Homo sapiens: one gene and its partners. The protein of the gene in region 4 interacts with the protein of the main gene of each other region in a biochemical or structural test. Each region holds a gene or a part of one and is shown on either strand. Other genes may lie near its edges. The genes, in order: UBE2R2, UBXN7, UBE2V2 and MUL1.

Region 1 (8,208 bases), on a different chromosome or scaffold from region 4:
GGAGTCTTACTCTGTCGCCCAGTCTGGAGTGCAGTAATACGATCTCGGCTCACTGCAACCTCCGCCTCCTGGGTTCAAGCGATTCTCCTGCCTCAGCCTTCTGAGTAGCTGGGACTACCGGCGCTGTGTCATGACTGGCTATTTTTTTTTTTTTTTGTATTTTTAGTAGAGACGGGGTTTCACCGTGTTAGCCAGGATGGTCTTGATCTCCTGACCTGGTGATCTGCCCGCCTTGGCCTTCCAAAGTCCTGGGGTTACAGGCGTGAGCCACCGTGCCTAGCAACTGAGGGTTTTTAATAAATGCCCTTTATCATGTTAAGATAATTCCCATCTATTCATAGCTTTCTGATTGTTTTTATCATGAAAGAGTGTTAGATTTTGTCAAATCCATTGTCTGTGTCAATTTGGATGCCTATTTTCTAATATGTCATTTTGAAATGCAAATCTGTTGAGTTCATTCCACTACTAAGAAGGTTGTGTTTTTTGTGTTTTTTTTTTGTTGTTTGTTTTTTTAATATATATTACGCTCTGAACCAAGTAGCATACTTCTGTGGCCTAATTTTTTTTTTTTTTTTTTTTTTTTTTTTTTGAGACGGAGTCTCGCTCTGTTGCCCAGGCTGGAGTGCAGTGGCGCGATCTCAGCTCACTGCAAGCTCCGCCTCCTGGGTTCACGCCATTCTCTTGCCTCAGCCTCCTGAGTAGCTGGGACTACAGGCGTCTGCCACCACGCCCGGCTAATTTTTTGTATTTTTAGTAGAGACGGGGTTTCACCATGTTAGCCAGGATGGTCTCAATCTCCTGACCTCGTGATCCGCTGGCCTCGGCCTCCCAAAGTGCTGGGATTCAGAAAAACTCTTTTTTTTTTTTGGAGACAAGAGTTTCGCTTTTGTTGCCCAGGCTGGAGTACAATGGTGTGATCTCGGCTCACCGCAACCTCCGCCTCCCGGGTTCAAGTGATTCTCCTGTCTCAGCCTCCCGAGTAGCTGGGATTACAGGTGCGTGCCACCACGCCCGGCTAATTTTTGTATTTTTAGTAGAGATGGGGTTTCATCATATTGGTCAGGCTGGTCTCGAACTCCTGACCTCAAGTGATCTGCCTGCCTCGGCCTCCCAAAGTGCTGGGATTACAGGCGTGAGCCACTGCACCTGGCCAGAAAAACTCATTTCTACATTTCCCATAGGTTGTTTAAATTGTTATTATTAAAGGAAAGCTCATCTCAAAGCTTCCTCAACAACAAAGCCTTTTATCTTCCACCCCACCTCCCACGCATTCACTGCCCAAATATACCAAGTTTCTCTTTTCTTTTTTCTTTTTTTTTTTTTTTTTGAGATGGAGTTTTGGTCTTGTTGCCCAAGCTGGAGTGCAATGGCACAATCTCGGTTCACCACAACCTCCACCTCCCAGGTTCAAGTGATTCTCCTGCCTCAGCCTCTCGAGTAGCTAGGATTACAGGCATGCACCACCACGCCTGGCTAATTTTGTATTTTTAGTAGAGATGGGTTTTCTCCATGTTAGTCAGGCTGGTCTCGAACTCCTGACCTCAGGTGATCTGCCCGCCTTGGCTTCCCAAAGTGCTGAGGTTACAGGCGTGAGCCACCACGCCCGGCTCTCTTCTTTTTGTTTTTTGTTTTTGTTTTGAGATGGAGTCTCGCTCTGCCGCCCAGGCTGGAGTGCAGTGGCGTGATCTCAGCTCACTGTAACCTCTGCCTCCCGGGTTCAAGGGATTCTCCTGCCTCAGCCTCCTGAGTAGCTGCGATTACAGGTGCCACCACGCCCAGTTAATTTTTGTATTTTTAGTAGAGATGGGGTTTCATCATACTGGCCAGGCTGGTCTTAAACTCTTGACCTTGTGCTCTGCCTGCCTCAGCCTCCCAAAGTGCTGGGATTACAGATGTGAGCCACCATGCCTGGCCTCTCTCTTCTTTTATCTGTAGTAACTTTTTACATGCCTTATGGTATCTAACCATAAGGCAGTGTGTTAGAATATAATATTTTGTATTAATTTTATTTTAAAAATATTTTATATTGATAATGGTTACATATATATTCATATAGTTTCTATGTGTCTAAATTTGGGTTGTATATGTAAGATTTTTGCACTTTATATAGTTATACCTCCAGTTTTTTAAAAATATAAATCTTAAGTCGTGTGTGGTAGCACACCCTAGAGTCCCAGCTATGGGACTACTGAGGTGTGAGGATCACTTGAGGCCAGGAGTTAGTGGCTGCAGTGCACCATGGTTGTCTTATGCATAATCACTGCACTACAGCCTAGGTAACATAGTGAGACTCCCATCTCTAAAGACAGAAAGAAGTTAAATAAATAAATAAATCTTACCTTCCATGTTAGGCTAAGTCCAAGAGATAAGTCACTGTATTTTACCTAACTTTATCTTTTCTATTGAATTGTGTTCTGTATTGCACATGGTGGGCAATCCATATGTGTATGAATTAACCTAAATGTACTTGTGGATTAAGTTGTGTTAAGTTTATGAAGCAAAATATAATAGCCATAGTGGGAAGTCATTCTAACCATACCTTGAGGATGTTAACATTTGCTGCGAGGCATATTTTTGGTTTATATAAGTCATGGTTATTGACATAGCATCTATCTGAGTAGATATTAAGCAAGGTTAGATATTTTTTCTTCCTTTTTATGTACTCTAGGTACACAGATATATCTGAAAACAAAGGGATATATATTTGGCTGCTTCTAAGACAATTGAGTCTTGATTTATTATGTTTGTCTTTTTTTTTTTAAGATGGAGTCTCATTGTGTTGCCCAGGCCGGAGCACTATCTTGGCTCACTGCAACCTCCGCCTCCCGGGTTCAAGCGATTCTCCTGCCTCAGCCTCCTGAGTAGCTGGGATTACAGGCGCGTGCCACCACGCCCGGCTAATTTTTGTCTTTTGTTTTTGTTTTTTTGAGACGGAGTCTCCCTCTGTTGCCCAGGATGGAGTGCATTGGCGCGATCTTGGCTCCCTGCAACCCCCACCTCCCAGGTTCAAGCGATTCTCCTGCCCCAGCCTCCTGAGTAGCTGGGATTACAGGGGAGTGCTACCACGCCCGGCTAATTTTTGTATTTTTAGTAGAGACGGGGTTTCACCATGTTGTTCAGGCTGGTCTCGAACTCCTGACCTTGTGATCTGCCCACCTTGGTCTCCCAAAGTGCTGGGATTACAGGCGTGAGCCACCGCGCCCAGCCAATTTTTGTATTTTTGGTAGAGATGGGGTTTCGCCATGCTGGTCTCAAACTCCTGACCTCAGGTGGTCCACCCGCCTTGGCCTCCCAAGTGCTAGGATTACAGGCGTGAGACACCGCGCCCAGCCCCAGTCAATTTTTTATCAGGATTGTACTATAGGAATAGTAAGTCTTCTCACTAGAAAATATACCTTGGAGATTGGTCGAAATAAATATTATATTTTAATGTTCCTAAGTAAACATAGGGATCGTTTGTTTCATCAGGATTGTTCTATAGGAATAGTAAGTCTTCTCACTAGAAAATATACCTTGGAGATTGGTCAAAATAAATACTTTTAAAATGCTTAATTATTATTTATCTTTGATGTTGAACATAAAAAGCAGAATTGTTTTCTCCTTTGATGAAGAAACAGTTTCTAGGAATAAAGGAAACTTTAGAACCGATGTCCCTTTTTGTACATCACTTTTTGAGTATTTACTGAATGTAATGTTTGTGTCTTGTAGAATGGAGATGTATGCATTTCGATTCTTCATCCGCCTGTAGATGACCCACAGAGTGGAGAACTGCCTTCTGAAAGGTGGAATCCTACTCAGAATGTGAGGTAAGGAGGAATCTGGTTTTGGAGTTATTCTTAATCTCCTTATTGTCTTTGCTCCTAGTAAAATAAAATTATGTATTGTCTTTTAACATGTAAAAAATCATCTTTCTTATATTCAGTTTCTTTGTCTTTAGCTAGAGCTTTAAGAAATATGTATGCGTCATTTTGAAGAGCTGTATTTACTAAACAATAATGTATATGATTCTCATTTCCCTATGTTCACTTAGGAATAGATTTTCAAGCCTGAATCCCTACTCTTAACTTATCCTAGTTCTACTCTGGTTCTTTATTACCACCTAACATTAGTGTCATTCATTGGTTGCAGTTAATAAACAATGTTAATTCATTATAAGTAACTGAAGTCCATACGCTTTCACATTTCCTTTGTTTTTACCTGTCGTTGTTTTGCTCCAAAATATTTCATACATATAAATATATATCTATATATGTACGTGTATACATATATGTATTTAAATTTTTTGTAGAGATGGGGTCTCACTAAGTTGCCCAGCTGGTCTCAAACTCCTGGCCTCAAGCAGTCCTCCCCACTTGGCCTCCCAAAGCGCTGGGATTATAGGCATGAGCCACTGTGCCCTGCTCATCACATTATATTTAATAGTCATGTCTTCATGGGCAACTCCTCTCTCTCTCTGTCTCTGTCTCTCTCTCTCTCTCTGTTTCTGTCTGTGTCTCTGTCTCTTGTCTTTGAGACAGTGTCTTCCCGTCACCCAGACTGGTGTGCAGCGGTGTGATCACAGGTCACTGCAGCCTCGACCTCCTGGGCTCAAGTGAGCCTTTCACCTCAGCCTCCCAAGTAGCTGTGACTATAGGTGTATGCCACCATACCTAGCTATTAAGCAACTCTTGATTATAAATTTTCTTGTTTTTGATGACAATTTTGGGGGGTACTGATCAGGTATTTTGTGCAATGTCCCCCAGTTGAGATTTTTCTTATGTGTTTTCTCATGATTAGTCTAGGGTTATAGGTTTGGGAGAGAAAGACCAGAGAAGTAATGTGCCATTTTCATTATGTCATATCTGAAGTATTTACTATCAGTGTGGCTTATCCCTGTTGATGGGATACCTTTCATCACCTGCCTGAAATAATATTTTTAGCTTTTCTCCACTGTAAAGTTGCTCTTTCCTGAACTTTTCATTCTGTACTCCTTGGAAGGAATATGCATAGCCCACAACTAAGGAGAGGGTGGCTATACCTCCTTGAAGCCAGGGTATCTATATAAATTATTTTGAATTCTTCTGCATGGATTGATCTATTCTTCCCCTTTATTTGTTTATTCAATCATTTGTTAAACATTTTTACTGATACAAAAACTAATAACTTGATTAGAATCTCCAGGTTTATCAAAAGTGAAGAATTGGAAGCTTCCTGACTTGTAATAGAAGCTCTTCAAGATGTGTCAAATGACTGTTGATTATGTTTGTTACTCATTCCTTTGGGTACCTTGTTCCATCCAATTTATTTAGAAAGAGTTGAGAAAATAGATATATTAAAGATTTCAGCATATCTTACCAATATATTTTTTAAGACAAAAAATGTTACTTTCTTTCTAAATTCAAATAAATGTGTTTTTACACCTCACCTTGACAACCATCATCCCTCTGAATGTTTTTTTCTCATATTTCTTTTTTTTTTTTTTTTTTTAAGACAGGATCTTGCTCTGTCGCCCAGGCTGGAATGAAGCGGCGCGGTCACGGCTCAGCACAGCCTCAACCTCCCGGGCTTGAGCAATCCTTCCACTTTAGTCTCTTGGGTAGCTGGGACCACAGGCATGCATCACGGTGTCTGCTCAAGATTTTGTATTTTTTTTGTAGAGAGATGGGGTTTTGCTTTGTTTCCCAGGCCAGTCTCAAACTACTGGGCTCAAGCAATCCACTTGGCCTCCCAGAATGCTCAGATTATAGGTGTGCCCCAAAGCACCTGGACTAATTTTTAAGTTTTTTGTAAAGATGGGGTCTCACCATGTTGCCCAGGCTGGTCTGAAACCCATGGGCTCAAGTGATGCCCCTGCCTCAGCCTCCCAAAGTGTTGGGATTACAGGTGCTCACACTACACCCGCCTTCTGAATCTCTTATCTATACAAGAATAATACCTACCTCAGTAGGTTGTTGATAGAATTTAAGTGAATAATGCATGTAAACCTACTAGAATGGTGGATATTACCTGGCTGGCTTGGGTTGCAGCTATTATTTTCAAGGAATTTTTTGGGTCTAATGTGAAGCAGTCATTTGCTATCTATTAGAAGAGAAACACATTTCTTAGTTCCTCATATTTATTTCATTTTGCTACAGGGAGACATAATTGCTAGATGCCTGTATCGTAACCAGTTCAAGTAGTACATAATTTATCTTGGGTTCTAAATACATGAAAAGAACTAAAATAATTGTTTTGAGCTGTTTTTGAGATATTCTGTAATTGAGAATACGCTTTCTTTTTTTGAGGGGAAAAGTGTCCTACGTAGCAAATTATGTATACATGAATTATCTCGATAGACTCAATTTTAAATTAGTATTAAAAATTCTGAGTTGTAGGCCGGGCGCAGTGGCTCACGCCTGTAATCCCAGCACTTTGGGAGGCCAAGGTGGGCAGATCACCTGAGGTCGGGAGTTCAAGACTAGCCTGACCAACATGAAGAAACCCTGTCTCTACTAAAAATACAAAATTAGCTGGGCATGGTGGCACCTGCCTGTAATCCCAGCTACTCGGGAGGCTGAGGCAGGAGAATTGCTTGAACCTGGGAGGCGGAGGTTGCGGTGAGCCAGGATCGTGCCACTGCACTCCAGCCTGGGCAACAAGAGTGAAACGCTGTCTCAAAAAAAAAAAAAGTCTGAGTTTTATGTATTCTATATTACTCAAGAGTATGTTTGAGGGTGCTACGTCTTCAGAAGTAATTGTAGCACATTATTTTGACATTATAATTAGACAATGTGTATAAAAGTTTTTAAAAAATATTTTGGATGATTTGTTGAAAAAATTGCATCCAAAAAAATCCCCAGTTGTACTTTAATAATGATTCTGGTGCATGGATTTTCAGGACGAGTAATAACCCTAGATTAGAGGAAGTGGTAGCTATAATACTGGTGATTCTTGGTTTTGCTGGTTGAACGTTGAATCAAATGCTTACACCCTCTCCCTATTTGAGAAAATAAGCTTCCCCTTTCCTCAAATACAAAGCCCCAAACAAGATTTTCCTCATTGCATTTTTATGCTGCTTGGCTGGATAATGTATTGCCACCACCCATGGGAATTCAGGCTTTTTATCCTTTACTTCTCTTGCATTTACACGCAAATGATGTCATTTGCCTTATCTCAGCTTAAAGTATTATGAACATTTTTTCTTTTAAAATAGGCCTACTTCTCATGTAATCCAGTCTTTTGGAGGCAGAGGATTCCTTTTATACTTATCTGCCCATCTGAAACTGCCTTTGTTACTTTGGGTACTAGCATCATTTTGTTTCCTCACACTTGAGTCCCCAGGCCACCTGAGCCACAATTTAGGGACATTCCCCATACTCAAATCAAGATTGTTTTCCCTGCTTTTATGCTGCTTTGTTTAGAAGCTTCCCAACTACAACTAGTTATGTGGAGTTACACCTAACATCTTCACACAGCTCTACAAGGTATTTGGGTTGGAAATTGTTTACCTTCTTAGACTTTTTATCACTTAGTTCTATGTAATCATTGGGTAGTCCTTCAACATTTTGATCTTATTGGTGTTTTCGGGGGCTGTGGGATGTTTTGTACACTTTTTGGAACCTCACCTGTCTGGAATACCTGGTGGTGCTCAGAACTCTGAGCGGAAGTCAGGAAAGCACTACCTAATGAGCAGATGTGGAATACTTTCGCTTATCCCTTTTGTTTCTGTGTTCACTTGGTTGTGAGACAAGGGAGGTTTTAAAGTAGTAAACTGTTATATTTTCTAACAGGTCATTTATGGCACTGAAATATTAAGAGGGAAGATACAAGATGTAGTGGAAATGGGCAACTATTTTCCTTCTTGTACCTCTCTGCTGCTAAATTATCTAGGGCCAGCAACTGTCTAAGGGTTCTGGGCTCCATGTCCAGTTTATGGGTGGCTGTAGTAAGACAGCAGTGGAGATGGCATAGGGTTCATCTCATCCTGTTTTGGAGTCTTATCTGCTGCCTCTCACTGGCATCTGAAAGTGATTCCATATTCACGTATTTGGTTTTCTTCTCCATAACCACGTGTACTCAAGACTATTGTTCAGCACCTCAATGGACATATTTATAACATAAAGTGGCAAATGGAGCACTTTTGTAACTTGAAGAATAAGGGACTCCAGTTACCTTCAAGAGTCTAAGTCAGTCTGTATTATCAGATCTGGTGAGTAGTGAGAGTTAGCCAACCTGAAAAGGAAGAATTTT
Region 2 (6,474 bases), on a different chromosome or scaffold from region 4:
TACTGGCTCCTTTTCTATTTTTTTTTTTTCATTCTATTAGAATCAGATCTGTTTTTCCATGTATGTTTATCGTCTGTTTCCAACTAGAAAGTAAGTTCCTTGAGGGCAGAGGCTGTATCTGTTTTGCTCCCCATCACATACATCCCTATTATTTGGCACATGAGGCTGGAGCATGGGGATGAGAAATGGTTCCACAAGAAAAGGGGGGGCACAAACCCATCACTGTAGAACTGTGAGCTAAGCAGCAGTCCCTTTTTTTTTTTTTTTTTTTTTTTTTTTGAGATGGAGTCACTCTGTCACCCAGGCTGGATGCTATCTCGGCTCACTGCACCCTCCACTTCCCAGGTTCAAGCAAGTCTCCTGCCTCAGCCTCCCGAGTAGATGGGATTATAGGCACTGCCACCACGCCCGGCTTTTTTCTTTTTTTTTTTTTTGAGACAGAGTTTCACTCTTGTCGCCCAGGCTGCAGTGCAGTGGCACGATCTCGGCTCACTGCAACCTCTGCCTCCTGGGTTCAAGCGATTCTCCTGTCTCAGCCTCCCAAGTAGCTGGGATTACAGGCGGCCGCCACCACACCCAGCTAATGTTTGTATTTTTAGTAGAGACGGGGTTTCACCATGTTGGCCAGGCTGGTCTCGAACTCCTGACCTCAGGTGATCCGCCCATCTCAGCCTCCCAAAGGGCTGGGATTACATGCATGAGCCACTGCATCCAGCAGCAATAACAATTTCTGTCATACCATATAATCGTATCTCCTTTTTGCCCATTAATTTAGTAATTATCTTTCCTTCAATTAAGCTAAGTCCTTAATTAACCATTAGTAATTACTGCTGGTCTGAAAGAACAGACACTGAATATTCGCCCAAGTATGTCAAACACAGAATCATACTTACCTAACAAGCCTAGCTTACCCAATGTTTCTGTAACAACTGGACTAATATTTACAGAGTGTTTACCATGAATGTTTGACATACCACAAAGAGCAGAAAAAAGGCTAGCAAACGTTACACATAACAACGGGACTACAAAGTAACCTTTGTCAATCAATAGTAACTGACCTAAATGAGAACGTGAGGGGGCAAGCTTTTGGAATCTCAATTGTATTACTGAAAGTAATATCCAGAGTCTTATCTTGTAAAAACAACAACACAAAAAAAACTAATACTGAAAAGTTTTTGTTTTTATTTCCAAGATCAAATATTACAACAGGACATTTACATGTATTTATAAAAAAATGCAGCAGTTGAATGTATAGATCAGAGGTTTCCTTGAGTTTGGTCCCTCTCTCAGCACAGTGAGCTGATGTCTTCAAAAGACTTATCGTCCCACTCCCTTCCCTCCCCCACCCCATTGTCCCCCCACCCTCCCCGTTTCAAGTTGCAGTATTAATATAAAGCAACTGGGTACAACACAGCAAGAGTATTCACAATTTGGTACAGACCAAACCAGAGGATCCCCAACTGACAGCAAGATCCTCCTTCTGGAAATTATTACCTATAGACTAGGTAGATCTATAGGTAGATCACACCCAGTTATCTAAGATTTCCCTGGTTTTAGAGCAAGTGGAAGTTCCATTGAGTCTTAGCCAGTAGTTACAACTCTGCGTTACCTAATGGCATGTTTTTCTCCTCTTACAAGTTTAATTTTCTACCGCCTCCATGTGTCTTCAAATTTAAGGCTTTCCCAAGCACCTTTATTATGACTTACTAGATATACAGGAGGGTCTCTAATGTGTCTTGAACAAAAAAATTTAGTGGATGGTCCAGCTGCCCCTTGCTCAACAATCCCAAAGACTTCTTCCCACCACTGAGAAGAGCTGCAGAAATCAACGGTATCTCCTAGCACCATTGGAGAAAAGGCCCAGAAAACAGAATTCGATGTGCATTTTAGGGAGCACTTGCCAGAAACATTACAACAGGAGCACTGTCTCTGTTATCTTCTTGGATTCAATCACAAATTTAGAGTACAGATGAAATTTAGAGCCTGTCCTGCATTAAGAATGCAAATCTCAGTAAGACCACCCCCACACACACTTTGTCCAGAATAAGTTGAGCCACAAACATCCCAGGGAATCTCTAAATACTGTTAGGAACTGCTTTAGAAAACACTTTAAAGCAAATACCCCAAGTTGACTTCACTCAAGCCCCCAACCCACCCTCATCATCCCTATCCCCCTAGAAATTTCATTCCTTGATTAACTTCTCTGAGTAAGATGTAAAGTGAGGTTTGGAAAATGACATGAAACATGAAACATGTTTAAAAACACAATCAATGAAGACATGCCAGAACTGGACATCCCAGGTGACTTCAAATGCATTGTTCAAGCCGAACTCATACAAAGCATGCACAGAGCCTGCACAGACACTGCTGAGAGTTTCCAGGGAACAATCAATACCTACTCGAAAAAGGACTTTCCTGAAGGGCAAACAAAACAAAACAAAACAAAACAAAACAAACAAAACAAAAAGTAACACTGGATGTTTAGAATTTGTTAACAACAACAACAACAAAAAACCATTCTGGAAAAAAAGATTATCAGAGGAGTGAAGAAAACCGTGTCTAACAGATTCATGCCAAAGCTTGGATGGAAGCCCCTCAAAGTCTAAGTATCGTGTTAGCATCAACTGGTACTCATTTCTCTATATCTAAGACTAGAAGATTCTCTCACAGCTTTACTGTTTCCTGGCAAGTGTTTTCAACAGCCTTTCCAGCTGAAGGGACGAACCCAGGAAAGTAACAAGGCCCAAGACCCCACATGGGTCAGATAAGCAGCCCCTACTAGAAGCTTGCTACTCGTTAACTGAAAAGTGGAGGCCACGCACTACTTTCACTCTCTCTAGCAGGTGAAAGGGGATTTTCTGATGGCAACAGTCACTCCGTGTAAGGTTTAACTTACAGGGCAATAAGTTATCAAAAAGTTATTGTTAAAAGCATATGATTAGTGTCATAAACATATTTATATTTGGAATTACACCATTTGATATCTCCATTAAGAATGCAAAGCTTTGAGAAAAGCATACTGTAAAATCATGTTGCTGCAAACAGCAAGGCATCCAGCTGAGTGTAAGCAGTCTAATGTCATCAAACTGAAATGGACCCTCGTGACGGGCACTATGGAACCAGCTACCTAGATAGAGAGAAAAAAGGAGAATGGCAGGGAACGGTTCCAGATCAAGAATCTCTCCCTTATCAGTTAAGAGTTCCATACTGAGTCTATGAAAAAAGCAAATTAAAAAGATTTTAAGAAAGGGGGAATTCAATTCCAGGTCAGAATTTATCTAATGATTTGATATGTTTCCCATTTATCATGTCTAAAAAATGAATGACTCATGCTAACCCAGTTAGATTAATAACTTCTTTTGATGAGAAAAAATATTACTTAGGTTTAGTCCAGCTTAGCTTGACTATTCTTCCCATTTGAAAACCCAAATGACCTTTAGAAGGGATATAAAATACCCAGAGTATTGTGATCTCTAGAGAGGAAATACAATTAAACAATAAAAACTTGCTGTTTGTTGCCAAAGAATTAAGTACAATAATGCGACTTCTCATATTTATAGATTAATCTGTGATTGCTCTTGGGAAAAATACTATCATTGGTATTTGCCATCTCTAATCCTAGAAATAAATCTGGTTATCTTTTGAAAATACTTTCTCATTACAGGAATGCTAAATTATGTTTATTAAAGTAGTTCAAATTGGATTGCCCAACTTTATTTTGAAATCAATAGCAAAGAAAGGCCTGTGCCAAAAATCATCATGTTTATGAGAATATCTGCAATTTTAAGCAACACAACAGCAACTGGTAGGCCACAAAGAGGGTGGGGTATCACAGAGCTAGCCATTCTCTATATGAAACCAGAGAATTCTCCTTAACTAGGGAGAAAATGAGCTATAAAAGTAAGTTTGCCTCAAAAATGTCCTTCAATTTTATAAAAAATGAAGATTGTTACATATTAAGACTTTGAAATGGAATTTCTTAAACATAGCCAATTACACTAAAAATCATAACTATTTTCAGAGAATGAATGTTAAAAATAAATGGTGGAGAAGTAAAATGGAAAGCAGGATTAAAAGATTTCTAATTAAGGGTCTGTCACTTCACAGGACAACTAGCAAGGCCATTATAATCTCTATTTTTAAAAAGACATCAAGAAATTCTTGATTCTATACTGTCTCTCTAGCAGGACTGACACACAGGTGAGTCAAAAACCATAACCATCACTGAAATACCAAATCTCTATGTAACAGGAGAAACCGATATATTGGTATGGTATTCTCTGTTGGGTTATCTGCAGTTCTAAAGAACATTCTTGCCACTATTCTAAAATGTGTACAGTGCAACACCATGTTTCACGGCAAGACAATAACTGAAAAGCTAAGCCAGGCAATCCAGTGAAGTTGAATGTCCATAGTACACAGCTGTCTTTAGCCTATTCATCAAGGCTGGTATTACCGGAAAACTGCCATGTTCACCAGAAGAGCTGTCTCTTCCTATGCTCATTACATTTTAGTTTTACAAAGACTACTAATTCATCAGCCTGCACCCCATGATTTACTACTGCGTAGTTACATGATGGTCAAAAAAGGCAGAGAGACGGTAAGAATGACATAATAAAGATACATTCTGTGGAATAAAAAACATTTTTAAGTCAGCCTAATTGTATCTTTAAAAAGCTGTTTCTGCCAAAACCAGGTGTGAATCTTATACAAATCAATTTCCCAACAGGCCAGTAAAGTACTTTAAGTACACAAGTAAAAATAAAATTTAGTGCCAGCGTTAGTGTCATATTTGGTTCTCATTTACATTTTAGTCATACTCAACACTGATTAGGCACACAGCATTAAGTTTTAAAAAATAATGAATTGTTTACAAGATTATTATTACTAGACCTATAACTACTATACTCTCCTCTTTGGAGATTTCAGTCATCGCAGTAAGATTAAGAGCAAGTTGTTGGTCAAATGATACCTGAACACAGAATAAAAAAAAGAGAGAAAAAAAAAGTAAAGAAACTGATTAACCAGCACACTTTTAATTAGCCTAGGGATAATACGCAATCACGGGGAGAGACTGGAAGCATGAAATTTTGGAAAAGGACTTCAGAGATAATCTAATTTGTTGTTCTAGAAAAGGCTGAGAACTATTAATCTAGTCCAATTATCTCATTTTTCAGACGAGAAACCAGAGATTAAGAAGAAAGAGAAGTGTGAAGGTAACAACTAGCAGAGCTGTTACCCAAAGGGCTCTCACACCTCCAGTGCCCTTTCTGCATATAACATATACTATACTATGCATTGGATTTGTACCTGGGTAGAGAAATTAAATCTTTCCTTCATTTTTCGGTTGCTAGTGGCTCCCTCTGGTATTTTCCCTAAGTGTGCAAGTAAGATTCCTGCGAGCTAGGAATCTTTACTCCGGGGGATCAATAGTGAGATCCCCGCAAGCTAGGAATCTTTACTCCAGGGATCAATAATCCTTTCCTACTTGGGTACTGGTTATGCCTTAGTGGCAGAACTTCATGCCCCAAATCTAGAAGTTACAAAAGGTGGAGCTAAAGAAAAAGGTGAGTCAAAAGAAAACGTGAGCTACAGTGCTTGCCACTTCAGTCTTGTTTAAGACTTTGCTAACTAAAACATATTCTTCCCTTTTTCTAAGTTTGAACTAATAGGTAAACATTTACATGCTCTCCAATTATTTCATGTGTAGTGTGTCTCTCTAACTGGATAAAACAGGCAGGAATCATATCTTATTTATTATTTTTTGAGACAGAGTCTCGCTCCATTGCCCAGGATGGAGTGCAGTGGTGTGATCTCGGCTCACTGCAACCTCCGCCTCCCAGGTTCAAGAGATTCTTGTGCCTCAGCCTCCCCATTAGCTGGGATTACAGACAGCCACCATGCCTGGCTAATTTTTGTATTTTTCAGTAGAGATGGGGTTTCACCATGTTGGCCAGGCTGATCTCGAACTCCCAACCTCAGGTGATCCACCCACCTCGGCCTCCCAAAATATTGGGATTACAGGCATGAGCCACCACACCTGGCCAGGAATTAGATCTCAGATTTCAAAATACTTCCAACTTCTATAAAGAACTCAATAGCTAATTGTTGACTTGTAAGTCAAGGAAGTAGAATTATATACAAGATTTAAAAACATACACACAGAGGGTTCAATAATCTGGTATGGATGGGACACAGAAAACAGAATTGTAGATCGGGCGCAGTGGCTCATGCCTGTAATCCCAGCACTTTAGGAGGCCGAGGTGGGCGGAACACGAGATCAAGAGATCGAGACCATCCTGGCCAACATGGTGAAACCCTGTCTCTACTAAAAATGCAAAAATTAGCCGGGCGTGGTGGCGCTCACCTATTAAAAAAGGTAATTGTATCTTTTCTGAAAAATGTTTAAAAAAAGAAAAAATTGTTTTTTTACCCTTTTCATTTATTCTTGGCAAATAATGCCACGTGGCAATT
Region 3 (9,045 bases), on a different chromosome or scaffold from region 4:
TGGCTGACACCTGTAATCCCAGCACTTTGGGAGGCCGAAGAAGGCGAATCATGAGGTCAAGAGATTGAGACCATCCTGGCCAACATGGTGAAACCCCGTCTCTGCTAAAAATACAAAAATTAGCTGGGCATGGTGGCGCATGCCTGTAGTCCCAGCTACTTGGGAGGCTGAGGCAGGAGAATCGCTTGAACTCGGGAGGTGGAGGTTGCAGTGAGCCAAGATTGCGCCACTGCACTACAGCCTGGGCGACAGAGCAAGACTCTGTCTCAAACAAAAAAAAAAAAAAAAAAGAGAGAATTTAGTTCTCAGATAACAGAATTGTTGATTGCTCTAGAAGCTGCTGGCAGGTCAAGTGGGATGAGCACTGGGAATTAACCATCAGATTCCATAATTGGATGGCACCGTAAACAGGGAAAACATAATGAAAGTGGAGAAGAGTAAGCTTTAGACCAAACACTTTAAGTGGTTGAACTTTGTCCTCAACAGGAGAAAGAAGCCCAGTTCCAAATTTAAATTACAGGGGAGATAGCATGAAAATGTCAAGGCAACAATGTTCCCAGGGCGCATAATGGGTTTTTCTGTGTGTGCATGTGTGTGAGTGTGCTTTGATCGCAGGTACTGAGCTTCCTGCTAGTGGGAGGGTCCATGAATGTCTTGGCTATTGAGGCCCCACAACTCTGAGGGTTAAAAAGTCAAGTGGATTAAAATGGATCTGATTTTCATGTTACAGAGAGAACATATTAGTTTTTTTGCTGTACTAACTTCTTAGTACAGACTAAAAGAGCAGATCAGTTTAATGAAAAGACAAGAAAAATAAATCAGGAAAGGATTCAGAGAAGTGGGATTTCAATTTGGCCTTAAGGGAGGACAGGATGTTGAAAGGTGGAGGAGAGATGTGGTATCTCAGGTGGAGAAACAACCAGGGCAGTGGCAATAGTGCACCTGAGAGGCGGCTTGGCTGAGTGTGGGCATCCACTGGAGAGAGATGGGAAATCATTCAGGAGGTATCAGTGGAGGCTGGGTTCTGGTAGGTTGTGAAAATCAGGCCGTGGTGTTTGGGCTTGGCATCCTTGGCCAGGGTGGTAAATGGACCATTTTCTGCTATAACTACCTATGGTAGTTACACCAACATGGGATGACAAGACTTTTTTTCTGCTGAACTTGGATATGGTCTTAGAAATGGCTCTTCAGATAATCATTACTGGCAATCAATATGAAACTTACTACCAATCTGGTGGTAGGCAAAAGGAAGCAAATGCAGGTTTTCTCAATCAGTAAGGACATAATAAATGTGGTGTTTAAGAAATATTGATATTTAGGATAGGTCAGCTAGAGGCTGTTGCTAAGTATATAATGCTGAGGTCACTAGAACTCAGCAGACAAACTTGGGGAAAGTTTAATAATTTGATGATAATATTAGAGTTTTTCTCTGCACTGGTAAGAAATTTCAGTTAGGTTATTGTGTCAGGTCCCTTTGTGAGAAAAACAGTCTCATTTTGGCTTGTCAAGTTACAGTGGCTTGAGAGTAGATAAGGATAGTATATTATGATTCTTCTTTATTTCCTCTTCTGTTTTTTTTTTTTGTTTTGTTTTTTTGTTTTTTTTTTGAGGCAGAGTCTCGCTCTTGTCATCCAGGCTGGAGTGCAGTGGTGTGATCTCAGCTCACTGCAACCTCCGCCTCTTGGGTTCAAGCAATTCTCTGCCTCAGCCTCCCAAGTAGCTGGGATTACAGGTGGCCGCCACCATACCTGGCTAATTTTTCTATTTTTAGTAGAGGGAGGGTTTCACCATTTTGGCCAGGCTGGTATTGAATTCCCGACCTTGTGATCCACCTGCCTTGGCCTCCTGAAGTGTTGGGATTACAGGCGTGAGCCACCGCACCTGGCCCCCTGCATTTTTTTTTTTAAGACAGTGTCTCATTCTGTTGCCCAGGCTGTATTACAGTGGTGCCATCATAACTCACTGAAGCCTTAACCTCCTGGCTCAAGTGATCCTCCCATCTCATCCTCCTGAGTAGTTGAGGCTACAGGCACGAACCAGAATGCCAGCTTTTTTTTTTTTCTCTTAACTACTTTTTCTCCTTTTTTTTTTTTTTTAATTTAAATTCTGGGGAACAGGGGCAGAACATGCAGGTTTGTTACAGAGGTATACACGTGCCATGGTGGTTTGCTACACCCATCAACCTGTCATCTACATTACGTATTTCTCCTAATGCTATCCCTCCCCTAGCCCCCAACCCCTGACAGGCCCCAGTGTGTGATGTTCCCCTCCCTGTGTCCATGTGTTCTCACTGTTCAACTCCCACTTATAAGTGAGAACATGAGGTGTTTGGTTTTCTGTTCTTGTGATAGTTTGCTGAGAATGACGGTTTCCAGCATCATCCATGTTCCTGCAAAGGACATGAACTCATCCTAATTTATGGCTGCATAGTATTCCATGGTGTATATTTGCCACATTTTCTTTATGCAGTCTATCACTGATGGCCATTTGGGTTGGTTCCAAGTCTTTGCTATTGTGAACAGTGCCACAATAAATATACATGTGCATGTGTCTTTATAGTAGAATGATTTATAATGCTTTGGGTATATACCCAGTAATGGGATTGCTGGGTCAAATGGTATTTCTAGTTCTAGATCCTTGAGGAATCGCCACACTGTCTTCCACAATGGTTGAACTAATTTATACTCCCACCAACAGTGTAAAAGCATTCCTATTTCTCCACATCCTCTCCAGCATCTGTTGTTTCCTGACTTTTTAATGATCACCATTCTACCTGGTGTGAGATGGTAGCTCATTGTGGTTTTGATTTGCATTTCCCTAATGACCAGTGATGATGAGCTTTTTTTCATGTTTGTTGGCTGCATAAATGTCTTCATTTGAGAAGTGTCTGTTCATATCCTTTGCCCACTTTTTGATGGACTTATTTTTTTCTTGTAAATCTGTTTAAGTTCTTTGTAGATTCTATATATTGGCCCTTTGTCAGATGGATAGATTGCAAAAATTTTCTCCCATTCTATAGGTTGCCTGTTCACTCTCATGGTAGTTTCTTTTGCTGTGCAGAAGCTCTTTAGTTTAATCAGATTCCATTTGTCAATTTTGGCTTTTGTTGCCATTGCTTTTGGTGTTTTAGTCATGAAGTCTTTGCCCATGCCTACATCCTGAATGGTATTGCCTAGGTTTTCTTCTAGGGTTTTTATGGTTTTAGGTCTTACGTTTAAGTCTTTAATCCATCTTGAGTTAATTTTTGTATAAGGTGTAAGGAAGGGATCCAGTTCCAGCTTTCTGCATATGGCTACCCAGTTTTCCCAACACCATTTATTAAATAAGGAATCCTTTCCCCATTGCTTGTTTTTGTCAGGTTTGTCAAAGATCAGATGGTTGTAGATATGTGGAGTTATTTCTGAGGCCTCTGTTCTGTTCCATTGATCTATATATCTGTTTTGGTACCAGTACTAGGCAATTTTTTTTACTGTAGCCTCGCAGTATAGTTTGAAGTCAGGTAGGTAGTGTGATGCCTCCAGCTTTGTTCCTTTTGCTTACGATTGCCTTGGCTACGTGGGCTCAATACCCCTGATGAACATTGATGCGAAAATACTCAATAAAATACTGGCAAACCGAATCCAGCAGCACATCAAAAAAGCTTATCCACCAAGATCAAGTCGGCTTCATCCCTGGGATGCAAGGCTGCTTCAACATATGCAAATCAATAAATGTAATCCATCACATAAACAGAACCAATGACAAAAACCACATGATTATCTCAATAGATGCAGAAAAGGCTTCGACAAAATTCAACAGCCCTTCATGCTAAAAACTCTCAATAAACTAGGCATTGATGGAATGTATCTCAAAATAATAAGAGCTATTTACGACAAACCCACAGCCAATATCATACTGAATGGGCGAAAACTGGAATGAAGGATTCTTTTTATTTTTTATTTTTTTTTATTTTGAGATGGAGTCTCGCTCTGTCCCCTAGGCTGGGGTGGAGTGCAGTGTCGCCATCTCGGTTCACTGCAAGCTCCAACTCCCGGGTTCACGCCATTCTCCTGCCTCAGCCTCCCGAGTAGCTGGGACTACAGGGGCCTGCCACCATGCCTGGCTAATTTTTTGTATTTTTTTTTTTTTAGTAGAGACAGGGTTTCACTGTGTTAGCCAAGATGGTCTTGATCTTCTGACCTCGTGATCCGCCCGCCTCCGCCTCCCAAAGTGCTGGGATCCATGCCCGGCCAAAAGCATTCCCTTTGAAAGCCGGCACAAGACAAAGATGCCCTCTCTCACCACTCCTATTCAACATAGTATTGGAAGTTCTGGCCAGGGCAATCAGGCAAGAGAAAGAAATAAAGGGTATTCAATTAGGAAAAGAGGAAGTCAAATTGTCTCTGTTTGCAGATGACATGATTGTATATTTAGAAAACCCCATAGTCTCAGCCCCAAATCTTCTTAAGCTGACAAGCAACTTCAGCAAAGTCTCAGGATACAAAATCAATGTGCAAAAATCACAAGCATTCCTATACACTAATAACAGACAAACAGAGAGCCAAATCATGAGTGAACTCCCATTCACAATTGCTACAAAGAGAATAAAAATACCTAGGAATACAACCTACAAGGGATGTGAAAAATCTTTTTTTTTTTTTTTTTTCAGTTTTATGTAGAGACTAGGTATCACTATGTTGTCCAAGCTGGTCTCAAAGTCTTGGGTTCAAGCCATCCTCCTGCCTCAGCCTCCCAAAGTGTTAGGATTACAGAAGTGAGCTTCGGCGCCCAGCCTGTATTACTTTCCTTTTTCTTTCTTTCTTTTTTTTTTTTGAAATGGAGTCTCCCTCTGTTGCCCAGGCTGGAGTGCAGCGATTTCTGCTCACTGCAGCCTCACCTCTTGGGCTCACGTGACCCTCCCACCTCAGCATCCCTAGCTGTTCAAATTTATTGTCCAACTCTTTTGAATCGTTTATCAACGCAAATCTGTCAATGCCCACTTATTTTTATTTATTTTTTTGAGGCGGAGTCTCGCTCTGTTGTCCAGGCTGGAGTGCAGTGGCGCAATCGCGGCTCATTGCCCCTCCGCCTCCCCGGTTCAAACGATTCTCGTGCCTCAGCCTCCCAAATAGCTGGGATTACAGGCGCGCGCCACCACGTCCGGCTAATTTTTGTATTTTTAGTAGAGACGGGGTTTCGCCATGTTGGCCAGGCTGGTTTCGAACTCCTGACCTCGGGTGATCCGATCGCCTCGGCCTCCCAAAGTGCTGGGATTACAGACGTGAGCCACCGCGCCCGGCCCTCATGAACTTATTCTTTAGCGTTTCATTTTGAGAGCGGGATTCACAAGGGAATTGCGGAAACAGCAGCGAGGCCCCGCGACCCCTCGGCCCACGTGCGCGCTGTCCCTCGGGTCGCCCCGCGCCCGCCGGGGGCGGAGTCCGCTGTGACGCGTGCAGGGCGGCGCGCTCCCGGAAGTGACGCGCGACGGTTCGTGCGTGCGTGCGGGCGGCTGCGTCGGGCTGCAGGAGAAGATGGCGGTCTCCACAGGTCGGTTCCCGGGCCGGGCTGCGTGATTTTCCGCTCCGACCCGGCTCTGCCCCTCCGTCTGCTGCTGGCGCCCGAGCGCTGACCGTGCGGGAGAAGCCCGAGTGCGCTGTCTCGAATGCCGCGCTCTCCGCAGAGCGTAGCCTGGGACCGGGTGGGACCGGCGCCGAGGCCCCGGCGGCCGTCGGGTTGGCGGGTCGTGCTCGCGCGTCGGCCGCGCGCCGGCGGGCTGGGGGCGGGGTGGCTCCCGCGCGGGCGCCCCCGTAGGTTCCGGCGGGCGCGGGTCCGAGTTGTAGGCTGAAGGCTCTACGGGAGGGAGGCGAGGAGGCCCAAGGTGGGCGGGTGTCAACCTCCGGCACCGAAGATGGGTCAGGCCAACCGGCACCGAAGATGGGTCAGGCCAAGAGGTGTCCTGGATCAGAGTAGGGGTCCCATTCCTTTGGACTCTCCTTGACATGGGTTGGGGAGTAGAGGACGATTGCTCCTTAAAATAAGAGCGAGAGGATCTTTCTTACCTGACTGAATACGTGTGATCTTTTTATTATTTATGAGGAAAACTGCAGTGCAAACAAAATAAAAGACCAGAGCAAGATGAAAGCTAATTGAAGAACAAGTGGTTTCTTAGATAAGCTGTTCAACTCCTCTTTCCTACTGAATACAATGTTTGGTTTCCTGTGAGCACACAAGTATTAACGTTGAGGTTTTAGACATTAGACCATTTCAGAAATGTTAAAAACGTTAAGCTTTAGTTTACATTTAAAAATGTTAACCCGTGTGATCTGCCTTTTTCTTTTCTTTTCTTTTTTTTTTTTTTTTTGAGTCAGAGGCTCACCCTGTTGCCCAGTTGGAATGCAGTGGTGTGATCTCGGCTCACTGCAACCTCCACCTCCCAGGTTCAAGTGATTCTCCTGCCTCAGCCTCCCAAGTAGCTGGGATTACAGGCGCGTGCCACCAGGCCCGGCTAATTTTTGTATTTTTAGTAGAGACGGGGTTTTGTCATGTTGGCCAGACTGGTCTCGAACTCCTGACCTCAGGTGATCCGCCCACTTCGGCCTCCCAGAGTGCTGGAATTACAGGTGTGAGCCACCGCGCTCGGCCTGATCTGCCTTTTCCTAGTCTTCGTTGAAACAAGAGTATAGAGCAGTGTGATTTAATAGTTTATGCCATCATTGCATAATAAAATGAATTTTCAAATCTATATGTACTGAAATGGAAGGCTTTGAATATATGTTGTAATTGTTGCTTTAGAGTAATACCTCAGGATACATTCTGCATACATTTTAATTAAGTGGTGTCTTTTACATCTTTATTACATATAGGTGTCATAGGTTTTAAGATCTTTAGCAGTTCTAGTGTTGGGGTAGTATACATACTTGGGTCAGCTAGCTAGTAAGGCAAGGATTGTTTTAAAAGTGGAATTTTAGTGTTATGACTTTACTGTGCTTGCTGAAATCTAATCTGTGCTCGTTAACGGGGCCATATCTTTATAACAGTTGTGCTTAGGACCTCTTATAGATTTTTGAAAATTTAGTAATAAAATAATGCATTTTAATTTAATACTTTTCATTTTCCTTTTGTGGGTTGCATTATTAAACACAATTTTTTCATAACACTATACATGAGTGTATGTTAATATTTTGAAAAGACCAAAGGTTAGATGATATTAATGGCAAATACTTTTTGTTAATCACTTTTAGTTGTTTTGGAAGTTGAATATAAATTATAAAGATTACTGATAAATTATTAGCATATTGTACATAGGGAGTCTGTATTTTTTTTTTTTTTTTGAGATGGAGTCTCGCTGCATTGCCCAGGCTGGAGTGCAGTGGCATGATCTTGGCTCACTGCACCCTCCTCACCTCAGGTGATCCACCCGCCTCAGCCTCCCAAAGTGCTGGATTACAGGGGTGAGCCACCGTTCCCATCTACTAGTTTTTTTTTTTTTTTTTTTTGAGACGCAGTCTTGCTCTGTCACCCAGGCTGGAGTGCAGTGGCGCGATCTCGGCTCACTGCAACCTCCGCCTCCCGGGCTCAAGCGATTCTCCTGCCTCAGTCTCCTGAGTAGCTGGGACAACAGGCGCGTGCCACCATGCCCAGCTAATTTTTTGTATATTTAGTAGAGACGGGGTTTCACCATATTGGCCAGGATGGTCTTGATCTCTTGACCTCGTGATCCGGCCTCCCAAATTGCTGGGATTACAGGTGTGAGCCACTGCGCCTGGGTTTGTTTGTTTTTTTTTTTTTTTGAGACTGAGTCTCTCGCTTCTTTGCCCAGGCTGGAGTGCAAGGGCATGATCTCGGCTCACTGCAACTTCCACCTCCCTGGTTCAAGCAATTCCTCTGCCTCAGCCTCTTGAGTAGCTGGGATTACAGGTGCATGCCACCACGCCCAGCAAATTTTTTTGTATATATATATTTTTTTTGTATTTTTTTTTTTTTTTTTAGTAGGGACAGGTTTTCATCATGTTGTCCAGACTGGTCTCAAACTCCTGACCCCAGGCAATCCGCCCACCTTGGCCTCCCAAAGTGCTGGGATTACAGGTGTGAGCCACAGTGCCCAGCCTATTAATTAGTTTTAATTTTACTATTAGCTATACTTTTGTTTGCTTTTTGGTAACATGGGAAGTAAATAGTACCTGTGTATTTGTGAAAGCAGCATGATACAGCTTAAAATTTAAAATTAGATGAGCTACATCGATGTAATGCACGTGTTTGTTTGAAACGGAGTCTCGCCTTGTTGCTCAGGCTGGAGTGCAATGGTGCGATCTCGGCTGACTGCAGCCTCTTCCTCCTGGGTTTAAGCAATTCTCCTGCCTCAGCATTCTGAGTAGCTGGGTTTACAGGCATGCACCACCACGCCCAGCTAATTTATTGTATATATATTTTTTCTAGTAGAGATGGGGTTTCACCATGTTGGCCAGGCTGGTCTCAAACTGCTAACCTCAGGTAATCCATCTGCTCCGGCCTCCCAAAGTTCTGGGATTACAGGCATAAACCACTGAGCTTGGTCTAATACACGTGTTTTTTATTTAAGCCAAAGTATCTCGATAACAGTTGTTTAAGAGGCCAAAAAGAAAAACCCTGACAAATATGTTTTGATCTTTAGTTCAGTGTGCATCATATACCTTAGCCCCTTTAACCCTTCCTTCTACTGGAAGAGAATTTTGGAAGGAAAAAACTTTTAATTAGACTGAGACTTTTTGAGACGGAGTCTTGCTGTGTTGCCCAGGTTGGAATGCAGTGGCATGCGATCATGGCTCACTGCAGCCTCGACCTGCTGGGGTCAGGTGATCCTCCTACCTCAGCCTCCCGAGTAGCTGCGAACACAGGCACGCATTGCCACACCTGGCTAATTTTTAAATTATTTGTAGAGACAGGGTCTCCGTATGTTATCCAGTGTAGTCTGAACTCCTGGACTCAAGTGACCCTCCTGCCCTGGCCTGAGGTTAGGATTACAGGTTTGAGCCACTGTGCCTGGCCAGACGGAGACTTCTAAGCAGAAACATTTTTGGCCATCCC
Region 4 (6,204 bases):
TTTAACCCACATAAAAATCCTGTGAAATTGCATTTTCCCTGTCCTTTATGGTTTTGGAACCTGAGACTCAGATAAATGAAGTTGTCCCAAGTCACAGTGGATGCATTGGCGCTAGATTAAACTCCAGATCTTTCTGATCATATTCTCCCTCTTCCCCCTTTAAAATTCGAATTGGCCATCCTGTGGTGGATACTTTACTAGCTGTCTCACTTTGGGCAAATCACTTCACCTCTCTGAGCCTGTTTCCTTGTCTGTAATTGGTGATAATAATGTCTACCGTAAAGGGATGGTGTGGGCATTAAGTGGTTTATGCATTTAAAGTGCCTAGCATATTGCCTGGTACATAGTATATTTAAATGCTTACTTATTCATTAATTTATTAATCAAATAATGTATTAAATGCTTGCTGTGTGTCAGGCACAGTTCTCCGCACTAGGGGGATAGCAGTGAACAGGACAAACAGTGTCCAAGCCCTCCTAGAGTTTAACATTCTAGTGGAGGGAGACAGATAATGAGTAAATTGTTAGTTGTTATTGCTGTCATTTTGGTATCTTCACAGTGTAAGTGGCTAAGAAATTTTGATTGACCTTGCTCCTGTCACTTACTGTGTAGCAGTAGCTTAAACTCAGAGTGACCTTCATATACATCTTGTATCACATCACCTCTTTAGAGGTTACTGAATCTGGCATCCTTAAGAGTTGTTTTTGGGAATACCCTGAAAGCAGAGATGGTCCTTTATTCGTCCTGAATCTCTGACACCCAGCACAGTGCCTGGCACAAAGATGCTCAGGAAATGATTGTTGATTTTATTCCTTTTCTCTTATTTTTGAAACAGCAGTAACAGGATTGGTTTCCCAAGTGCAGTGGGTTGGACGCTCTGAGTTGGAAGGCAGAGGAGAACTAGGGATTGTTAGAGGAAGACAGCAGCAGAAAGAACCGTGCTCACTTAATTATGAGCATGAAAAAGGCAAAAAGTAGAACAGACTGGGTGCGGTGGCTCACACCCGTAATCCCAGCACTTTGGGAGGCCGAGGCAGGAGGATCGCTTGAGCTCAGGAGCTCAACACCAGCCTGGGCAACATTGGGAGACCCTGTCTCTGCAAAATAAAAAAATTAGACAGGTGTGGTGGTGCATGCCTATGGCCTCAGCAACTTGGGGGCCTGAGGTGGGAGGATCACTTGAGCCTGGGAGGTTGAGGCTGCAGTGAGCCATGATTGCACTACTGCACTCCAGTCTGGGTATAACAGTGAGACCCCATCTCAAAAAAAAAAAAAAATGTAGAATGGCATTTGGCACCAGTTAACAGTCTTCCTGTTGAAGCAAAGGCAACTCCCCCTGCTTTGTTTTTTTAATAACATACAATGCAGAGCATTGGTTCGTAAAGATGTGGTAATATTAATAATAACACCTACCAGTTCTCAAACCACTGCCATGTGCTAGGTGATAGGTTAGGTACTTTATACCTGAACCCTTTGGATCATAGCTCTGTGTTGTCAGGAAGAGATTGAATGATGTTCAGTCTGTGGTATGTAAATTGACTAGTACCTTTTATATTTTCACTAAAAAGTCTTAACATGAAAAGGAGTATAGGTTTTGGTTAACTGGAACAAGAATGTATGTGGCACCCCCATTCTGCAGTGATGGAAGAGGCAGAGGCATGGCTCCATTCCTGTTGATGTACACAGCTTTGAAATCTGATTCTCAGTAGTCACCTTCCTGTCCAATTTCCATATTCTCTTGACACGAAAAAAATAGAATCTTTTTCTTTTTTTTGCCTGTAAGTTTGATTGAGCATGTCAGTGTTCAATGGCCAATTAATTTAATTTTTTTTTTTTATTTAGGGAGCTAAAAAAGTTCATTTGGGTGAAGATTTAAAGAGTATTCTTTCAGAAGCTCCAGGAAAATGCGTGCCTTATGCTGTTATAGAAGGTATGTTTGCTTATTGGTCAATGGAAAACAACGTCTTTTTCCCAAAAGATTGATAAAGATCATCTTGGCTAATATGAAGAGCCTTTTGTGGTGTTGGGTCCATGGTCCAGAACATACTTTGGGGTCAGAAAGACATGGGTTATTGCTTTGTGATCGCTAAGATTACCAAACCTCCCTGAACCACTGTTGCCTGATCTCGAAAATAATACTTACCTTTATGGGGTTGTTATAAGACAAATTATGTGATCCATGCAAAGTGCTTAGGAGAGTGCTTCTAAAATGTGACTTATGGTGATCAGAATGTCATTGTTTTGATGAATTAGCAAAAGTCAACTGAAAACACTTAATTTTTAACATTTTTTAAATTAAAAAAAAAATTTTTTTTTGAGGCCAGGTGTGGTAGCTCATGCCTGTAATCCCAGCACTTTGGGAGGCTGAGATGGGCTGATCACTTGAGCTCAGGAGTTTGAGACCAGCCTGGTCGACATGATGAAACCCCGTCTCTACTAAAAATACAAAAATTAGCTGGATGTGGTGGCACATACCCGTAATCCCAGCTACTCGGGGGGCTGAGGCAGGAGAATTGCTTGAACCCGGGAGGCGGAGGTTGCAGTGAGCCAAGATTGCACCACTGTACTCCAGCCTGGGTAACAGAGTGAGACTCCGTCTCAAATAGAGTCTTGGCTCTGTCACCCAGGTAGCTGTAGTATGGTGGTGTGATCATAGCTCACTGCAGCCTCAAACTCCTGAGCTCAAGTGATTCTCCTGCCTCAGCCTCCCAAGTATCTGGGACTACAGGCACATGCCACCACACCCTGCTAACTTTTTAATTTTTTGTAAAGATGGAATCTCACTGTGTTAACCAGGCTGGTCTCAAACTCGTGGCCCCAAGTGATCCTTCTGACTTGGCTTCCCAAAGTGTTGGGATTATAGGTGTGACCTACTGTGCCAGACCAGAAAACACATTTTAAATTATCTGAAAGGAGAGGGCAGAAAACTTCTTCAGAAATAATAGAATTTGTGTCCACTTAGGAGCTGTGCGGTCTGTTAAAGAAACGCTTAACAGCCAGTTTGTGGAAAACTGCAAGGGGGTAATTCAGCGGCTGACACTTCAGGAGCACAAGATGGTGTGGAATCGAACCACCCACCTTTGGTATGTATCACTTCTCCACTGGCCAAAACCCTTGCAGTTGGTCTATTCAAATGCTGGGGTCCTGGGTGCTGTTGCCGTGACTTCAGCTTCTCCTGAGACAGGTTGAAGCCCAGTCTCTTAATGCAGGTCATATTCTTGTGTGTAGCCTGTGGGCCTCCTATGTCGGAATCACCGAGGCATCTTGTTGAAATGCAGATTTCTGAGCTCCCTTCAGTCCCTGAAGTGGATAAGTCAGTCCCTGGTGACTTATCCAACCAGAATTTCCAGGATCAGGGACCTGGAATCTGTTGTTAGGCACACTGAAGTTTGAGAACCACTGAATCAGTGATTTCAGTATTTCCTAAAATGCTTTTGTGCCATCATATGAAATATCAGTTTTCCAACTGGTCCTAGTGAGTTTTGTTTTAGATGTTTGTTTTACAGTGGAAAGGGAAATGATAGTCTGTGGCGGTTATTTGTTGCCCACTGATATCGCCCCAGGACCTACAAATGGAGCCTCCTTGTTAGGAGGCAACTGGAGATAGTGATCTTACTGTCTTCTTCCAGTTACTTCAGACCATATGCTGTCCTCCACATTTAGTTGATCTCCAGTTCTGCCTGGGTGTTTGCTGTTTGCTACCCTGTATCTTTAGTTCTCTTATTCTTCTAGGAATGATTGCTCAAAGATCATTCATCAGAGGACCAACACAGTGCCCTTTGACCTGGTGCCCCACGAGGATGGCGTGGATGTGGCTGTGCGAGTGCTGAAGCCCCTGGACTCAGTGGATCTGGGTCTAGAGACTGTGTATGAGAAGTTCCACCCCTCGATTCAGTCCTTCACCGATGTCATCGGCCACTACATCAGCGGTGAGCGGCCCAAAGGCATCCAAGAGACCGAGGAGATGCTGAAGGTGGGGGCCACCCTCACAGGGGTTGGCGAACTGGTCCTGGACAACAACTCTGTCCGCCTGCAGCCGCCCAAACAAGGCATGCAGTACTATCTAAGCAGCCAGGACTTCGACAGCCTGCTGCAGAGGCAGGAGTCGAGCGTCAGGCTCTGGAAGGTGCTGGCGCTGGTTTTTGGCTTTGCCACATGTGCCACCCTCTTCTTCATTCTCCGGAAGCAGTATCTGCAGCGGCAGGAGCGCCTGCGCCTCAAGCAGATGCAGGAGGAGTTCCAGGAGCATGAGGCCCAGCTGCTGAGCCGAGCCAAGCCTGAGGACAGGGAGAGTCTGAAGAGCGCCTGTGTAGTGTGTCTGAGCAGCTTCAAGTCCTGCGTCTTTCTGGAGTGTGGGCACGTTTGTTCCTGCACCGAGTGCTACCGCGCCTTGCCAGAGCCCAAGAAGTGCCCTATCTGCAGACAGGCGATCACCCGGGTGATACCCCTGTACAACAGCTAATAGTTTGGAAGCCGCACAGCTTGACCTGGAAGCACCCCTGCCCCCTTTTCAGGGATTTTTATCTCGAGGCCTTTGGAGGAGCAGTGGTGGGGGTAGCTGTCACCTCCAGGTATGATTGAGGGAGGAATTGGGTAGAAACTCTCCAGACCCATGCCTCCAATGGCAGGATGCTGCCTTTCCCACCTGAGAGGGGACCCTGTCCATGTGCAGCCTCATCAGAGCCTCACCCTGGGAGGATGCCGTGGCGTCTCCTCCCAGGAGCCAGATCAGTGCGAGTGTGACTGAAAATGCCTCATCACTTAAGCACCAAAGCCAGTGATCAGCAGCTCTTCTGTTCCTGTGTCTTCTGTTTTTTTCTGGTGAATCGTTGCTTGCTGTGGACTTGGTGGAGGACTCAGAGGGGAGGAAAGGCTGGGCCCCGAGTACAACGGATGCCTTGGGTGCTGCCTCCGAAGAGACTCTGCCGCAGCTTTTCTTCTTTTTCCTCATGCCCCGGGAAACAGTCTTTCTTCAGAATTGTCAGGCTGGGCAGGTCAACTTGTGTTCCTTTCCCCTCACCTGCTTGCCTCCTTAACGCCTGCACGTGTGTGTAGAGGACAAAAGAAAGTGAAGTCAGCACATCCGCTTCTGCCCAGATGGTCGGGGCCCCGGGCAACAGATTGAAGAGAGATCATGTGAAGGGCAGTTGGTCAGGCAGGCCTCCTGGTTTCGCCACTGGCCCTGATTTGAACTCCTGCCACTTGGGAGAGCTCGGGGTGGTCCCTGGTTTTCCCTCCTGGAGAATGAGGCGCAGAGGCCTCGCCTCCTGAAGGACGCAGTGTGGATGCCACTGGCCTAGTGTCCTGGCCTCACAGCTTCCTTGCAAGGCTGTCACAAGGAAAAGCAGCCGGCTGGCACCCTGAGCATATGCCCTCTTGGGGCTCCCTCATCCAGCCCGTCGCAGCTTTGACATCTTGGTGTACTCATGTCGCTTCTCCTTGTGTTACCCCCTCCCAGTATTACCATTTGCCCCTCACCTGCCCTTGGTGAGCCTTTTAGTGCAAGACAGATGGGGCTGTTTTCCCCCACCTCTGAGTAGTTGGAGGTCACATACACAGCTCTTTTTTTATTGCCCTTTTCTGCCTCTGAATGTTCATCTCTCGTCCTCCTTTGTGCAGGCGAGGAAGGGGTGCCCTCAGGGGCCGACACTAGTATGATGCAGTGTCCAGTGTGAACAGCAGAAATTAAACATGTTGCAACCAAGTGCTAGCCTGTTGCTTTGTTAACAGGAGTTAAATGGCTAAGCCTAAGTGTCCCCAGGATGGGATTGAATCCCTGCCACAATGGAGTGAAAGGTGGGGGAGTTTGAGGCCTCTGTGTTCTTTTCCTCGGCTATAGTGGTTTGGGGCTCCCCCAGATGGGGTGATGCAGAGGCCGGCCGGGATGCCTGCCCCCTGGGGAGGAATCTGGACAGCCCACCCGTGGGTCATATCTGGCCTTGCTGACCATCTTTGAAGTCTGTCCCGACAGCCTACAAATCAGGGCAGTGAGATTTCACCTGCTGGGAGAATGGGATGGGGATGGGGTGCTGGGGGACAGCAGAGAGGAAATGAGCATTTAGCAATACTGTGTATGAGGTACTGTGCCGTGTGCTGTTTCAAACTCATTTCAGAGTGAGTTCATCCTCACAAAACCCCTGCAGGCCGAGTCCCGGTGTCTGTGCTGTACAGGTGAGGAAGTAGGCCCAGAGGGTACATTCACTG

The links.
Region 1: the proteins of MUL1 (region 4) and UBE2R2 form a complex in vitro, tested with the Homo sapiens proteins (one study listed by BioGRID).
Region 2: of the proteins of MUL1 (region 4) and UBXN7, one has a biochemical effect on the other in vitro, tested with the Homo sapiens proteins (one study listed by BioGRID).
Region 3: the proteins of MUL1 (region 4) and UBE2V2 form a complex in vitro, tested with the Homo sapiens proteins (one study listed by BioGRID).

What each region holds. Positions count from the first base shown.
Region 1 is NC_000009.12:33,896,466-33,904,673, forward strand, and holds part of UBE2R2 (ubiquitin-conjugating enzyme E2 R2), read left to right. Parts: intron 1-3,708; coding exon 3,709-3,806; intron 3,807-8,208. UniProt on the Homo sapiens protein: E2 ubiquitin-conjugating enzyme that accepts ubiquitin from an E1 ubiquitin-activating protein, and catalyzes its covalent attachment to other proteins by an E3 ubiquitin-protein ligase complex.
Region 2 is NC_000003.12:196,346,500-196,352,973, forward strand, and holds the end of UBXN7 (UBX domain-containing protein 7), read right to left. Parts: 3' UTR 1,163-6,474; downstream 1-1,162. UniProt on the Homo sapiens protein: Ubiquitin-binding adapter that links a subset of NEDD8-associated cullin ring ligases (CRLs) to the segregase VCP/p97, to regulate turnover of their ubiquitination substrates.
Region 3 is NC_000008.11:48,002,942-48,011,986, forward strand, and holds the start of UBE2V2 (ubiquitin-conjugating enzyme E2 variant 2), read left to right. Parts: upstream 1-5,489; 5' UTR 5,490-5,513; coding exon 5,514-5,529; intron 5,530-9,045. UniProt on the Homo sapiens protein: Has no ubiquitin ligase activity on its own. The UBE2V2/UBE2N heterodimer catalyzes the synthesis of non-canonical poly-ubiquitin chains that are linked through 'Lys-63'. This type of poly-ubiquitination does not lead to protein degradation by the proteasome.
Region 4 is NC_000001.11:20,498,948-20,505,151, reverse strand, and holds the end of MUL1 (mitochondrial ubiquitin ligase activator of NFKB 1), read left to right. Parts: intron 1-1,842; coding exon 1,843-1,930; intron 1,931-2,962; coding exon 2,963-3,083; intron 3,084-3,732; coding exon 3,733-4,462; 3' UTR 4,463-5,704; downstream 5,705-6,204. UniProt on the Homo sapiens protein: Exhibits weak E3 ubiquitin-protein ligase activity. E3 ubiquitin ligases accept ubiquitin from an E2 ubiquitin-conjugating enzyme in the form of a thioester and then directly transfer the ubiquitin to targeted substrates.